Regions from separate parts of the Homo sapiens genome. Here region 2 is linked to region 1. The links come from fine-mapping of genetic effects on gene expression. Tissue or cell type: whole blood. Region 1 holds a variant in brackets; the other region holds the start of a gene. All regions are shown on one strand. Distances are between the middles of the regions.

Evidence for each region. PIP is the estimated chance that this variant, and not a neighbour inherited with it, causes the effect.
Region 2: it holds the start of PSMC5, and the variant in region 1 is fine-mapped to the expression of PSMC5 in whole blood (TOPMed, PIP 0.93).

What each region holds. Positions count from the first base shown.
Region 1 is chr17:63,861,144-63,869,244 of GRCh38, forward strand. It overlaps the pseudogene TCAM1P. Among named protein-coding and RNA genes, the nearest start is that of CSH2, 8.5 kb to the right of the region's middle. The variant G/C (reference allele first, on the strand shown) is at 4,593.
Region 2 is chr17:63,823,178-63,831,278 of GRCh38, forward strand. PSMC5 (proteasome 26S subunit, ATPase 5) reads left to right here and starts at 4,254. Exons shown (of 12, transcript NM_002805.6): 1 at 4,254-4,337; 2 at 4,961-5,032; 3 at 6,317-6,386; 4 at 6,675-6,772; 5 at 6,956-7,012; 6 at 7,094-7,324; 7 at 7,632-7,758; 8 at 7,859-8,049. The coding sequence starts at 4,314. FTSJ3 (FtsJ RNA 2'-O-methyltransferase 3) reads right to left here and starts at 4,486. Exons shown (of 21, transcript NM_017647.4): 1 at 3,875-4,486; 2 at 3,659-3,751; 3 at 3,390-3,495; 4 at 3,081-3,127; 5 at 2,879-2,958; 6 at 2,359-2,458; 7 at 2,065-2,259; 8 at 1,871-1,986; 9 at 1,648-1,752; 10 at 1,460-1,560; 11 at 1,154-1,234; 12 at 907-1,062; 13 at 640-775. The coding sequence starts at 3,725. RefSeq lists enhancers at 3,599-4,798, 3,935-4,214, 4,595-4,644.

The sequences.
Region 1 (8,101 bases):
CAGATGAGGGGAAATTGGGAACATAAAGGAAAGGAGTTAAAGTGATCAGGCAATATTAATTAAGGGTCGATGGCCGAGGAGAACAAAGGAAGTGATAGTGGGAGTTTATGCTGAAAAGGGAAATTTCCAAAAATTCCATATACACATTTCTATTTTGAAGAGTAGAGAAAATAGGCCAGGTGCGGTGGCTTACGCCTGTAATCCCAGCACTTTGGGAGGCTGAGGCGGGTGGATGGCTAGCGGTCAGGAGTTCAAGAGCAGCCTGACCAACATGATGAAACCCTGTCTCTACTAAAAATACAAATATTAGCCAGGCATGATCGTGGGTGCCTGTAATTCCAGCTACTCAGGAGGCTGAGGCAGGAGAATTGCTTGAAACCTGGGAGGCGGAGGTGGCAGTGAGCTGAGATCACGCCACTGCATTCTAGCCTGGATGACAAAGCGAGACTTCGTCTCAAAAAAAAAAAAAAAAAAAAAAGAAAAGAAAAAATCCTCATCTCTGAGTTCACCACTACCTAGCTCCTTACCCACTGAGAAGCAAAGATGGGAAGCAGGGGCCCCAGGGCCACCATGGACAGAGCAGGGTTATCATGTAGTCTGAATCCGTAAAAACACCCTAGGTTTTGGCGGGGCCTGGTGACTCACGCCTGTAATCCCAACACTTTGGAAGGTCAAGGCGGGCGGATCATGAGGTCAAGAGATCGAGACCATCCTGGCCAACATGGTGAAACACCATCTCTACTACAGATACAAAAATTAGCTGGGCATGGGGGCACATGCCTGTAGTCCCAGCTACTCTGGAAACTGAGGCAGGAGAATCGCTTGAACCTGGGAGGTGGAGGTTACAGTGAGCTGAGATCGCGCCACTGTACATACTCCAGCTTGGCGACAGAGCAAGACTCCATCTCAAAACAAACAAACGAACAAAAAAAACACCCTAGGTTTCATCTGGGACTCCCTACCGATAGAGAAGGTGGGAAAGAAGAGTTGGCTCAAAGCAGGGAGCTGCTAGTGCTCCCTTGGGAAGGAAAGCTGTTGGGTGGAGGGGACAGCATTTGGGTGAGGGGAGGAGAGGGAGCAGGGGGTGAAGGTAGGGAGGGAGTGTGGTGCACTGAACTCAGCTCTTTGGGAAACTGTTTTTGCAGGCAAGCCACAGTTAGAGGAATCCAGTTGCCCTGGCAAACAGACCTGGCTGGAAGGGATGGAACACACGCTCGCCTGCGTCCCAAAGGGAAACCCAGCTCCAGCCTTGGTGTGTACCTGGAATGGGGTGGTCTTTGACCTTGAAGTGCCACAGAAGGCAACCTAGAACCACACTGGAACCTACCGCTACACAGCCACTAACCAGCTGGGCTCTGTCAGCAAAGACATTGCTGTCATTGTTCAAGGTAACCTTTGCTGCCCTGCTGCCAGGCCCAGGATGGAAACCCCTCAGGAGTTTGGGATTCTTATCTAAGCATGAAAATAAGAAAGATTCTACTAGGTTGGGAAGAATGAGACTCAGAAGTGGGCCTGGTGGGCTGGGGTGGGTGATCCTTGTACTCTCAGACTTTCCTAACTCTATCTTCTGTGCTTGGGCAGGACTGGATGAAGGAATAAGCTCTACCCTCTTTGTCATTATTACCGTTGCCCTTGGAGTGGGTGTCATCACCATAGCACTGTATTTGAGCTATCGGCCCTGCAAAGTGGACAGGAGGAAATTGCTCTATAGGCAGAAAGAGGAGGACAAAGAGGAGGAAAGCCAGTTTGCTGTTCAGGAAGAGAAAAGTACAACTCATATAATTGACAACTGTTTGATTGAATGAGACTTCTGCTACTGTGGTTTCCCAGGGAGGGAAGAAGGGATAGAGGAGAAAGGAAGAAACACAATGGCAGGCTGCATTCCCCTTTGTGTACGTCTGTCCTGTAAAACGGTGTTTCAGGCCCCCATGCCCCATGTCCTGTGTGTCCAATATGTCCACAAGCTCACCATTCTCTCTCTCTCTCTCTTTTCTTTTCTTTTTCTTTTTCTTTTTTTTTTTTTTTGAGATGGAGTCTTGCTGTTGTCGCCTAGGCTGGAGTGCAATGATGCGATCCTGGCTCACTGCAACTGCAGCCTCCCGGGTTCAGGTGATTCTCCTGCCTCAGCCTCCCTGGCAGCTGGGATTACAGGTGCACACCACCATGCCTGTCTAATTTTTGTACTTTTCGTAGAGATGGGGTTTCACCATGTTGGCTGGGCTGGTCTCAAACTCCTGACCTCAAGTGATCCGGCCACCTTGGCCTCCCAAAGTGCTGGGATTACAGGTGTGAGCCACCGCGCCCAGCCACCTTTCTCTTTAGAGCTCACTCTAGTCATTAAGAATCTCAGTCTCAATGTTTGATTTGTAAGAAGGCCTCTTGCTCCTTGCCAGGTGCTTCATCAGTCCACTCTTAGATACAAAAAAAAGATCCTGCTGTTTCTTTATGGTTTCCACTGCCCTTTTCTCTTAAATATCATACTAAAGTCAGGCACATCTTAGAAATGCAACTCATATTTCATGGTTTTCTGATTACTAACTGGGAACTAAATTTGTAGTCCAGGGACAGGACTTTGAAGGGAGTAAGTATCAAATATGGGGCTAGGAATCAGAGCTCTGTTCCCATCTCCACTTTCCCTTGCTCCCCTGACCTGGGCTTCTGGAGGGCCAGCTCCCAGAGCTGAGCTTGTTGACATCATTAAGGATCAGTGGCAAGCTTCAACTCAGTAACCATCTGTTGTGGGTCTTGGGGGAGTATACAGATGGTAAGAAATTCCACTTTGGGCCAGACAAGCATCCTATCTAGCCCAGTGTTCTGTCTCTGAAGTAGAAGGTAGAGTTCTTCCATGAAATTGGCCTCATAGGTTAAGAGCTCCAAACATCTCTGAATTCCTTTTCATAGAGTGATCAACTGTGAGTTCGCATTTGTCAGTTTTTTTTTTGTACCCATGTGGGTGTCTAGGTTAGAGTTGCAATGTTTACTCTCCCTTTTCATCAATAAGGACATATTTTCTTCTGTCTGTAAGCAATTTCCTTGAAGCTTCAAGAAGAATCCTCTTGTGAAAATGTTCATATGATTTTATGATTCTGCTTCCTTCCCTGTCCTTGGGAAAGAGTATATTCACCCTCAGAGAAGGCGTGAGGAATCACCAAACCAGATCTTTTCTCCCAAATCAGTCAAGAAATGTTCACTGGAATGTTGCTATGGTAAAAATAAAAGTGGTTTTATGATGTCCAAATGCAGTTCCCTTCCCTTCTGTGTCATTGCTGAAACCTCTTATTTATTTATTTATTTATTTATTTATTTATTTTAAGACAGAGTCTTGCTCTGTCGCCCAGGCTGGAGTGCCGTGGCACGATCTCGGCTCACTGCAAGCTCCGCCTCCTGGGTTCACACCATTCTCCTGTCTCAGCCTCCCAAGTAGCTGGGACTACAGGCACATGCCACCATGCCGGGCTAATTTTTTGTATTTTTAGCAGAGACAGGGTTTCACTGTGTTAGCCAGGATGGTCTTGATCTCCTGACTTGATTCGCCCACCTGGGCCTCCCAAAGTGGCTGGATTACAGGCGTGAGCCACTGTGCCTGGCCGCTGAAAGCTCTTATTATGTCAAATGGTTGCATTTTATAACTTTTTCTTTTTTTTTTTTTAGATGGAGTCTCACTCTGTTGCCCAGGCTGGAGTGCAGTGGCGCGATTTCGGCTCACTTCAACCTCCACCTCCCAGTTTCAAGCAATTCTCTGCCTCAGCCTCCCGAGTAGCTGGGATTACAGGCACCCACCGCCATGACCAGCTAATTTTTTGTATTTTTAGTAGAGACAGGGTTTCACCATCTTGACTAGGCTAGTCTTGAAGTCCTGACCTCGCGATCCACCCACCTTGGCCTCCTAAAGTGCTGGTATTACTGGCGTGAGCCACCGCTCTTGGCTGCATTTTATAACTTTAAGTACAATTTCTAAGGAAAAAATACCGTGTTGATAGCATAAACAACCAGCTCAGGGCAGGGGGTGCATTAGCTCAGGGCAGCAGCCTATTTGACCTGCTTTCAAAACTGAAATTCAGGCCGGGGGCAGTGGCTCACGCCTGTAATCCCAGCACTTTGGGAGGCTGAGGCGGGTGAATCACTTGAGCCCCGGAGTTTGCGAATAGCCTGGGCAACATGGCAAAACCCCATTTCTACAAAAAATACAAAACTAGGCCAGGTATACTGGCACGTGCCTGTAGTCCCAGCTACTTGAGAGTCTGAGGTGGGAGGATCACTTGAGCACAGGAGATGGAGGGTTGCAGCAAGTTGAGATCATGCACTGCACTCCAGCCTGGGCGACAGAGCCAGACCCTGTCTCAAAAACAAAACAAAGGAAACAAAAACAAAAACTAAAGTTCAGACTTCCAGATAGAGAGAGGTCCATAGCCTTCCAAATTGCAGATACTAGCTAGAAAAAACCATGGTATCAGACAGCAGAGGGAAAATGTTTTTCCATTCTTCCCAGACCTCCCCTAAGTCTGGTGTTATAGATTAAGTATAAAAATAACCCTTTGGAAGGCCAGGCACGGTGGCTCATGCCTGTAATCCCAGCACTTTCGGAGGCCAAG[G/C]GGGGCGGATCACAAGGTTAGGAGATCGAGACCAGCCTGGCTAACACGGTGAAACCCCGTCTCTACTAAAAATACAAAAAAATTAGCTGGGCATGGTGGTGGACACCTGTAGTCCCAGCTACTCGGGAGGCTGAGTCAGGAGAATGGCGTGAACCCGGGAGGCAGAGCTTGCAGTGAGCCGAGATCGCTCTGCTGCACTCCAGCCTGGGGACAGAGCAAGAGTCCGTCTCCAAAAAAAGAAAAAAGAAAAAAAATAATAAGCTTTTCGTTTCACCACATACAAGGCAGTGGGGATACAGTGGTGAACAAAACATTGTCCCTGGCTTCCACAAATTTATTAGGAAAGCAAGACAAACAAGTATGTAATGAACAAAAAAGTTCATTACATTTGAGCATGAACTCCTATGACTGGGAAAACAGATTGTTAAGAGAAAGCATAACTCGGATCAAGGAAGGCTTCCTGGAGGGACACGAAATATCTTGACTTTGTAAAATAGCATCATCCCGGAACATGACCTTTTCAACCTCAATGTTTCCACTAGGTGGAGCTACTGCTCTCTCATCATGTGAGTCTAATATAAATCATCCACCTTCCCTGAATTGAGCATTTGGGGAAGTAAGTTAAGAAGCAGGTTTAAGAGACAGGAGTATAGAGCTGCCCCATGCAGGGATCCACAGACATTTCGGTGTCAGGATCAGCCACATCAAGGCTATAGTTATCTTGTATCTGCAAACCCTGCCTCATGGCCTCAGTGCCTTGAAGCACAGCGAATCCAAAAAGGAAGGGAAAAATGAGCCAGGCATGCCGGTGTGCACCTGTAATCCCAGCTACTGGGGAGGCTGAGGCAGGAGAATCGCTTGAACCTGGGAGGCAGAGTTGCAGTGAGCCGAGATCGTGCCATTGCACTCCAGCCTGGGCAACAGAGTGACACCCCATCTTGAAGAAAACAAAAACAAAAGCAAACAAACAAAAAACAAGACAAAACCAAAAAAAGAGGGAAGAAGGGGGCCACTTGGACTTTCTAGTTCCAGCAGGGAGATCCTGGAGGCTCAACCGGCTGCTGCCTTTGCTTCTCACTGCCACAGGGTGTCAGTGTGGACAGATGGTCCCACACAGTACCCTCAAACCAAGCGGGTCTGCAGATCTGGGTTCCTACCTGCTGTGGATCTCTGAGGGAGGATGATCTGCTTCTTCGGGGCCTGGTCCAGCAGCGGGTGTCCTCTTGCTGGGGTTTCCAGGGTTCCAGTTCTTAGAGCTCAGTAGTTTGGATGAGCCGTCCCGCAAAGCTCTTCAGAGTAGGCTGGGCTGTTTCCCTTGTAGACTTGGAACCTCTGTTCGCTTTCCTTCCCGAAGGATCCACACAACCAGTGGTCAGGCAGGCAGCCCCTTCTCATTGATTCTTTTTTTTCTTTTCTTTTTATTTTTTTTGGAGACAGAGTCTCGCTCTGTCTCCCAGGCTGGAGTGCAGTGGCGCAATCTCGGCTCACTGCAACTTCTGCTTCCCGGCTTCAAGCAATTTTCCCTTCTCAACCTCTAGAGTAGCTGGGATTACAGGTGTCTGCCACCACACCCGGCTAATTTTTGTGTTATTAGTAGAGACAGGGTTTCATCATGTTGGCCAGGCTGGTCTCAAACTCCTGACCTCAGGTGATCTGCCCACCTTGGCCTCCCAATGTGCTGGGAGTACAGGCGTGAGTCACCACGCCTGGCTTCATTGATTCTGAAAGCAGGAAGGGTCTCATATCTCTTTTCCAGTATGATAGAGCTTCTAAGGGTAGCTGCCTCATTGTCTATAGGAGGAGGCCCCACCCCTAAATGATTTTGATCATATTCTTTCTGAACATTAAAGCAACCAGCTCACGCTTAAATTGCAGGTATCTTGATTATCTCCAGAGGAAGAGTGGCCTTTAATACTCCAAAATTTTATCCTCTTTCTTATTATTTTTGAGAGAGAATCTTGCTCAGCCACCCAGCTGGAGTGCAGTGGCATGATGGGCTCAGCGCAACTCTGCCTCCCGGGCTCAAGCGATTCTCGTGCCTCAGTAGCTGGGAATACAGGTGTGCACCACCACACCTGGCTAATTTTTGTATTTTTAGTAGAGACGGGGTGCCATCATTTTGGCCAGGCTTGTCTTGAACTCCTGATCTCCTCCCGCCTCGGCCTCCCAAAGTGCTGAGATTACTGGCTTGAGCCACTGTGCCTGGCAGTTTATCCTCTCAAGGATGGTCAGGGTGACATTCTGGCGTCTTTGTCTTTAGACCTGAGAAAGAGTAAGTTACATCTTTAGTGGGACTTCTTACCATAGGATTAATAATAGTATTTACCTTAGAAGATTATACTTAGAAAGAAATGACATAATACTTGCAATAAACTAGCATGTTGCTGGAGACATGTGTTTACATTTGTTGGTTTTTGTGATTACACTGATAATTCTGGTGGTAATTAAGCACATCATTATAATCACAGTAAACTCAAAGCAAGAATCAGAAATCCATGGTAACCTTGAGCACCATCAAAAGTCATATACACCGTGTGCAGCTTTCTGATTTTTCTACTCTTTTTCTTGCTCCTTCCCCTACTTTCCCCCCAGTTTGGTCCCCTAAGATTTAGGACTACTAATAGGGTGACCAGTCCTGTGAGCTGAGTTTGCATTGAGCTGAGGGATTCCTGGAAGGAATGTGGGACTTCCAGTGTTGACATTGAGAAAGTCTCCTGCAAACCAGGACGAGTTGGTGACCCTAATCCCAGCGGTGCTCATTGTGTGCCTCAGCACTCCAGGGCCTTCTGAATTAAAGAAGCATCCAGGCAAAGTGTCAGCTTGTCTTGGCCTAGAAGCCCAGACCCTATAATTCAGAAGAAAAGGGAAGGGGTCAGTTCTGCTCTCAACTGTGTATAAAGGGACAAAACCCACCATGTGTATTTGGACAATGCTCATGGAAGAAATTCAGAAGTGGTCATTTTAGGTTAGGGTAAATTCAAAAAAAATGACAGAGTCAGTAAAACATTATGCCAGGGGTCAAGGATGACTGGAGCTCTGCCTGCTGAACTCTTCCTTGTGTGAGTCTTGCTAATCTTATCTTCAGGAAGAGTTTTCATTAGAAAATACCAATAAGAGCCAGGCCTGGTGGCTCCCGCCTGTAATCCTATCACTTTGGGAGGCCAAGAAGGGTGGATCACCTGAGGCCAGGAGTTTGAGACCAGCCTGGCCAACATGGCGAAACCCTGTCTTTACCAAAAATACAAACATCTGCCCTGTGTGGTGGTGCACGCTTATAATCCCAGCTACTCAGGAGGCTGAGGCATGAGAATCACTTGAACCCGGGAGGAGGCGGAGGTTGCAGTGAGCCAAGATCCCACCACTGCACTCCAGCCTCTGTCTCAAAAACAAAAACAAAAATAAAGTATTAACAATTTTTAGTTGTGAGAAGATATAAACGTTTCCATCTTAACCATTTTACGTGTACAGTTCAGTCATGTCAAGTACATTGACATCGTCATGCAACCCTC
Region 2 (8,101 bases), 38 kb before region 1:
CAATGAACTAAAGAATGCTGCTCCCCTCTGAGGGAGATCCTCTATTCATCTGTGCTTGAAACTCAAGTAACCTGGCAGCATCTACTATAACCTAAGTTCTTTTCTGATGTTCTAGTTCTTCAAGAATAAATCTATCAGCCGGGCGCGGTGGCTCACGCCTGTAATCCCAGCACTTTGGGAGGCCGAGGTGGGCAGATCACGAGGTCAGGAGGTCGAGACCATCCTGGCTAACACGGTGAAACCCCGTCTCTACTAAAAATACAAAAAATTAGCCAGGCGTGGTGGTAGGCGCCTGTTGTCCCAGCTACTCGGGAGGCTGAGGCAGGAGAATGGTGTGAACCTGGAAGGTGGAGCTTGCAGTGGGCCGAGATCGTGCCACTGCACTCCAGCCTGGGCAACAGAGCAAGACTCCGTCTCAAAAAAAAAAAAAATAAATCTATCACACTCATCTATCTACCTAACTCATCCTTTTTGGTTTATGTTTCTTTGTGGCCTTATACTCACCAAGGCACCCTGTGGTGAAGACAGCAACCACAGCCTATCGTTCGGCAACCTAAAAAGACATTCAACACCCCCCACCTCCAAACACCCAAACAGATCCTTCTGTCTCCTAAACCTGCACCCCCAATGCCGCCTCACCTGGTGACCCCGGATGGTGCTCAAGGAGAACATGCCAGTCTCCCCCTCGTCTGCAATGGAAACCCCAGGCAGATCCATCTTCAGCTCCACACGCTCCCGCTGCTTTCTCTGCTCACGCAACAGCTTCTTTTTCTTCCTGAGGGGGTGGATTGAGGGAGTAAAACCGGCCCAGCTCCAAAGTTTCTATCCATGCCTTGCATTTTCTTCTCCCATCTTCACACAGTCCCTGCGTTGGGGAACTCCAAGCTCTACCCCAGCTCCTTTCACCTCTTCAATTCCGCCACCTCCTGGGCCTTCATTTCTGCCAAGGTCTGGTTCAGTTGTTCCTCCTCCTCCTCTTCCTCCTCCTCCTTAGAGGGCTGCTTTGTGGTTCCAGCTGTTGAGTCCTCCTCATCACCTTCATCTTCCTCTCCAGAGCTGAGGCTGGCAAAACAGTCCCAAGAGTTGGGTTATTTTCCCAGACTTTTCCCCTGGACACCCAGTCCACACCTGCCTCGCTGCGTTCTCTCCTCACCTGATGTCCAGTGCCTTTGCTTGTTCTTTCAGCTTCTTGGCCACATATCGCCGAAGTTTTGTTCTCCAGTTTAGTAGCGACCTGCCCCAGAGATACTATTACTGATCTTGCCATCTCCCTCTTTGTCCCCGCCCCCTTCTGTTTTAGGCTCACTACCCACCTTTCGGGCTTCGGCTACATAAATCAAAAGGCTCAGGCCCCCATCCCAAACCTTTAGCACAGCAATATCCTCTTCCCAGAGGTCCAACATCATGGCCTTTCCCTGCCTCCAGGGCTCCTGGCCCCCGTGCCTACCCCACTCCATACCTGAGCTCCTTGCGCCCCAACACTCTGATGTCCTGACAGCACACCCGTATGTCCTCAGTGGTAGCTGGATGCTGTGCCAACTCTTCATCATCTACCATGATCTGTTTGGGAGGATGGAAAGGTGTCAGGGGAGATCCTCAGGCCATGTTTCTGGGGCTACCTCATGTCCCTCAAGGCTGGAGACTCACTTCGCTGGCCTTGGAGAGGAAGTCAACAGGGTTGGCAGCTCGGAGGAAGTCAGTGACTGAGGTACGGTGATAGAGAGTGAGGTCACCCTCAGCATAGCCTTCAGCCTTAGGAAGGAAAAGAGAGAAGCTTGGTCAGGCCCTTCTAAGGTACCTGTAGGACCCACCAGGCCCAACCTCCCTAGAGTTCCAGGACCCAAGAGTGACCCCATTCCCCAAAACACACCTTTGGCTTCTTCTTAGTAACCAATTCAGTAACGGTCTTAGCCTGAACTTCAACCTCCTTAAAGGCAAATTTGGGGTCAAAGAATTTACTGTCAACCTTGTCAGGGGCCAGGAATCCTAAAAATGACAGGATATATTAAAAAGTGTGCTTTGGGAGTTGGGAGCCTGGATCAAGAGAAAGGAAATGATGCCCACCTTGGCAGACTACAAAGATCTCTGCAGATTCATGGCGAGAGGCTTGGGGCTTGGTGGCCTGGACACGGCGGAACAGCTGCTGAAAGATCCATAGCAGAGGCTGATAGTCACGAGAACGGAAAACCTTTGTGATGAAGCTGCCACCACGGGCCAAAAAGTCACAAGCCAAACGTAGAGCCATCAGTGTCAAATGGGCTGTAGGATAGAGACAATTAGTTGACGCACTCTGCAGCCCAGGAGGGCATGCGCCCACCTCCACCATCACCTGATCTCCAAGCACCACACTCCCTGTACCTTGTGAGTAAGCATCATGGACCCAGCTAGCCCCAACGTTGGGGGCCCCATCATTGAGCACAACATCAACCTTCCAGGTCTTCAGCTCCTTCCTCAGGGCCTAAAGAGAAGAAAAGGAACTATGGAAACAGAAACACTGGAATGGCCCTGGTTCAGCCATTTGTCCATCTAGTCATTTGCTGAGTGCCCATCATGGGCCAAATGCAGTACCAGGCACAGGAGATACAATAGTAAACAAAAACAGTATGTCTCTACCTTCATGGAGATTACAGTCTGACACTGAATTCACAGGAGAAGACTTCACTAAAGATCTCTGCCCTTCTCCCAATTCCAAACACCTTTATCCCTGACTCTAAATAAAGCCTGGAGTGGACACTACGAATGCCATAGGTCTTGTCGTACAGATGTCAGGCAAGAACGTGCTCAAAGCACGGTAAAAAGGAAAAACTTGCCTTTAGAGGATTTCAGGGATGTAGATGTTTCCGTATAAAGGGGGAAGGAAGAGAGAGACTCCTATTACCTGCCTACAACGTTCTGTTGTGATGTCCTGCTGGAGAGTCACCACATTGGGGAGAGGCTTGATTGGAACCAGGTCCACTCCTGGAAGAAATCAGGTCAGAGTATTCTAAAAGGTTGCTTCAAGCAGGGAGGAGAGAAATACAGGACAAAATACCTTATACACCCACCCCTTAAAACACCAAGGAGAGCTGTCCGTTACTCACCCACAATAAGGCTGGATACAGGCATAAACTTGGCAGCTACCTGCAGCCTATAAAAGGAACAGAAATTTAAAAACCTAGAGCCATCCTTTTCCCCCTCTTGGCAACTGATCTCTCATCCCTGGTGTTACGTGTACTGGCCAAAGCATATCATAGGCACGTATTCCAAGCCCTTTCTCTGCAATCAAGAAAGGAAACGGCCCCCAAGAGGACCGGGATTCGGGTTCCCCTCCCGCAGTGAAACTGGAAGCCATCCCAGCTCAGAACCCAGAAAGCGGCCACCAGGAGCAACCTGTGGCGAGTGTTACGAACCATCCCCCTGGCGCAGCACACAGGTCCAGCAAGGCTCGGGCTTTCTGCAGGAACTGAAAGCGGCGATTGAGCTGGATCAGCTTGAAAGCAGATCGGGAACGGTAACCTGGACAAAACAACCAAGTGCGCAAACTGCTTCACTAGTAGGATTTCTCCGGCCTCGCAACCGACCACCCCTTCTGCAGGAGAGGTACATAATGGTCGCAAAGAGCAGGCGAACCGGGCAGAGATCGCTCGCTCGCTCGCAGACTGAGCGAATCCGGACTCACCCGTCTCCTTCGCCAAGTGATAAAACTTGTCTCGTCGGCTCTTGCCAACTTTGCCCTTCTTGCCCATGGTGGAAAGGGGGAGTATCCCTCAATCTGGGGAGAAAGTAGAAGTTGGGAACGTCTCTTTCCGGAGCACCAGATTCCACTTCCAGTTTCCCACTTCCAGTTTCCCACTTCCCGCAGCAATTCCACCCCGCGCCCCTCTCCGCACACTACCTAGACCCAGAGCCGCTTTCTCCACACTTGGAACCGCACAAGTATGCAGCTAACTACTTCCGCTTCCGCTTGCGTCCCCTGCGTCCCTGGCTCGAGGTTTTCCGCCATTTTGAGTGTGGCCCTAGATTGTTCTCAATACTCTGTCCTTGGGTTTTGTAAGTTGAAAGTTGAGACTAGGAAGGCATATCACAAGAACTATAAACAGAGTTTCAATGAGGCAACACTGAGGAGGAGTTCTACTCCTTCCTCATCCCCTTCCAAAGCCCCTGAACTCGAGTAGCCGCCCCTCCCATCATGGTTCCCTTAGTGTGGTCTCGCCGCACACCCCGCCCATTGACCCGGAATTCTTCTCTGCCTGGTCTTCAGGTCCCAATCCTCCGCTTCCGCGCTTGCGCGCCAAGACGGCTCGGATGCCGGCGGTCTCTGCTGAAGAGAGAAGATGGCGCTTGACGGACCAGAGCAGGTATGGCGGGTGCAGTGGCGGCCCGGCAGGTTACGGGGCTGGGTGCGGAGCGAGCGTGATCTGAGTGGAGAGCGGGCCGGGGCAGGAGCGTCGGGTGGGTCGGAGGTGCCTGGACCAGTCCATGCTGGACGCTGCCTGCGACCGGATCTGCTGTGTCAGCGCCGCCCTCGGTGAGTCAGGGCAAGGCTGGGAGAGGAAGACGCGGTAGAAGCGGAGTGAGTGAGGGAAGCGATGGGCGCGGGAATGGCCGGCCCACGGGTCGCAGGAGACGGGACGCCAGTCCTTTGGCTCCGTTCCGCTGGCTCCTTCGTCAGTACTGACACCTCGGGCTTGTAGAGCACTTCACGCAGTGCAAAGCGCCCCCCGTCTATATCATATCGCCTCTCGGTCCTCCTAAAAGTCGTATGAGGTAGGCGGCGTTCCCATTCTTTTATTTTAGTCCTGGGAAAATGGAGGGTTCCAAGGGAGGGAGGGATTAGAACCCAGATCCTGAGCCTCCGAAGTCCAAACTTTTTCTACTACGCAAAGCTACCTGGTGTCAAGCCTTATTCAAAGTGCCCTGCAAGTGGCTTTACCCCCTCGGATGTTTAACCTGTCGTTTAAGACTCACTCTGTGTCTTCAGATGGAGCTGGAGGAGGGGAAGGCAGGCAGCGGACTCCGCCAATATTATCTGTCCAAGATTGAAGAACTCCAGGTGAGGACGGACTCCAGAGGGAGCTAGGAAGGGTGATGATGGGGGATGGAAACGGACTTCCACAAATCCATCTAATTCCTTTGGGAGTGCAGTGGAAGAAGCTGCTGCTTCTCCTTTCTTGTTTGTTTCTTAGCTAGTAGGGTGTATGTATCAGAAGTAAGCAATCTCTTGTTCTCCTCCAGTCCCATCTCTTTGAGGGTCTTAGTGTTCACAGTTTGTTACACATCTTCGAGTCAAATCTTAATAGTAAAGGTACCTCTAGCCAAAGGTCAACCCTTTTGGAAGAAGCCCGAATGAAAAGGATTCTTATAAAAGGGAAACATAAGCTCAGGAGTTGAAATTTATCACCAAGAGGTTGGGTGAGGGTGAAGTGAGAATGTGAGGAAGGGCATCATTGAGGGATCTGGACAATGCTAATTCCATAGAGACTGAATGAAAGAAATTGGGCAACCCAGAGCCCTAGCCTAAAGCGCTAAACCATAGAAAAAGGACCGTTTATGTTGTTAATCAAATGTTTGTGTTACCAGTAAGGCTTCCAGCAGTAAGGTATGGCTTCCAGTAGTAAGCCTTACAGACAACATAAACAGTAGTCTGTTAGTGTTACGTTATACTGTTACGGTAGGCTGTTAGTAGTTTAACTTTGGACAGGTCCATGGATTTTCAATTTCACCCTAACCCCCTGCGTTGTTCAAGTGTCAACTGTAATATAAATTGGATGGGGGAAAGCCACAAAAGACAATTCTGAATTCCAAGTGCATTTGCAGGTATTATGTTTAGTTTACCATTTTTGAATGCTTTTTCATGTGTTTTTATTCGTTCACCTTAGTAGTCTTGAAGCAGGGTAGCTGATGCTATACCCATGTGCCGTTTGGTAACAGATCTAGATTTTTAAAAATAGATTGTCTTACCTTTACTTTGCTTTTGATTGACAGCGGCTGGGCTAGAACTCAGGTTTCTCACCTAACAATCTTTCCACCAGGTGTTGTTGCCTTCCTGCAAGAAATTTGGTGTTACATGAGCCAGCTGTAACTTTTCTCCATTAGATTCTGTTACTCCTGGACCAGTATTGGACAAGCAGCCTTCTTTGATGGCTGCTGTAAGGTCCAGAGGGACTCTTGAAGGACAGGGCAGGGTCATTAGGATCATACTGGAGAATCTGAAACAACATGCAGGTGCCCTGTGCCCTTCCCTCAGCTCATTCAGACCTGTGAGGTCTTGGCCAAGATCCTACCTCCTCCTGTCTCCTGCCCTTGAATAATGGAATTTGTCTCTTGTCTGCCACAGCTGATTGTGAATGATAAGAGCCAAAACCTCCGGAGGCTGCAGGCACAGAGGAACGAACTAAATGCTAAAGGTGAGTGGAGAAAGATGGGAAGCCGCATGTGGGCAGTTTGTCTGAGGTCTGTCCTTATCTCCCTGCACTGTGTCTTCACAGCAGTGCTTACTGTTTTCTCCCTGTCATCATCTAGTAGTTTCACATGCATCTCTTTTTCCTGAGCCCTATTGTAGCCTCCTTAAATACATGAATTTTGACCTTTGGCCTTCCTTTAATAAGAGTGATGCTTAGCTCATGCACGTAGAATTGGGTCCTGGAGACTCCAAAGGAGTAGCTAGGTGACCACTGTGTCTGTTTGCCATCTAGTTCGCCTATTGCGGGAGGAGCTACAGCTGCTGCAGGAGCAGGGCTCCTATGTGGGGGAAGTAGTCCGGGCCATGGATAAGAAGAAAGTGTTGGTCAAGGTAAAAGCAGCATGACCCCAGGGACCAGCTCGGTCTCCACTGCATTCCCACCCCTTTGTGTGTAGCCTCGGGAGACAGGGTTCTGTGTTCTGTCAAGGTATTGTGGGATTCTCATAGGTCTTCCTGGGTAGGATTAGTGATTTGGTGGCTGTCAAGGAAGGTCATGAGCCCTTGTTTCTTTAGGTACATCCTGAAGGTAAATTTGTTGTAGACGTGGACAAAAACATTGACATCAATGATGTGAGTGTAGCAGGTGAGGTGGTGGTGGTGGTGGGGTCAGCTCTTACTGTACCACTTCTGAAACTCGCCCCCTTCACCCAGGTGACACCCAATTGCCGGGTGGCTCTAAGGAATGACAGCTACACTCTGCACAAGATCCTGCCCAACAAGGTAGACCCATTAGTGTCACTGATGATGGTGGAGAAAGTACCAGATTCAACTTATGAGATGATTGGTGGACTGGACAAACAGATCAAGGAGATCAAAGAAGTGATCGAGCTGCCTGTTAAGCATCCTGAGCTCTTCGAAGCACTGGGCATTGCTCAGCCCAAGGTGAGGAGCAGGGCTTCTCTGAGAGGGCCAAGCTGTACTTACTCCTCCTGCCCCAGCCAGCCCTACTGCAGGGGTTGGGGAGGCACCGGGATAGGCTGCATCTTGCTTGGGCTGGCCCTCCCCCTGAAAAGAGTGGCTGGGGAAGTGTTCCTAGGGCGGTGAGGTGGTTTGGATAGAAGGGACCTTGATGTTCCTTTTTTTTTTTTGTATCCCTAACATCTAGCAAGGGACCCAGCACTCGGTAAATGTTCACTGAATGAAATGAGGGGTGTAGCTTTCTGCCCTGAGTCCTGCTGTTCCCCTGTAGGGAGTGCTGCTGTATGGACCTCCAGGCACTGGGAAGACACTGTTGGCCCGGGCTGTGGCTCATCATACGGACTGTACCTTTATTCGTGTCTCTGGCTCTGAACTGGTACAGAAATTCATAGGGGAAGGTAACCATGGCTAGCAATGTGAGAAGCAAGAGGTAGGGGTAGGGGGTTAGAGAGCTAATAAGCTAATAAGCTCCCTAACACCAGCTCGGCCTCCACACAGGGGCAAGAATGGTGAGGGAGCTGTTTGTCATGGCACGGGAACATGCTCCATCTATCATCTTCATGGACGAAATCGACTCCATCGGCTCCTCGCGGCTGGAGGGGGGTTCTGGAGGGGACAGTGAAGTGCAGCGCACGATGCTGGAGTTGCTCAACCAGCTCGACGGCTTTGAGGCCACCAAGAACATCAAGGTAAGGTGGTAGCATCCTTGGGATGGGCCCAGGGAAGGCCTGGGTGCCACGC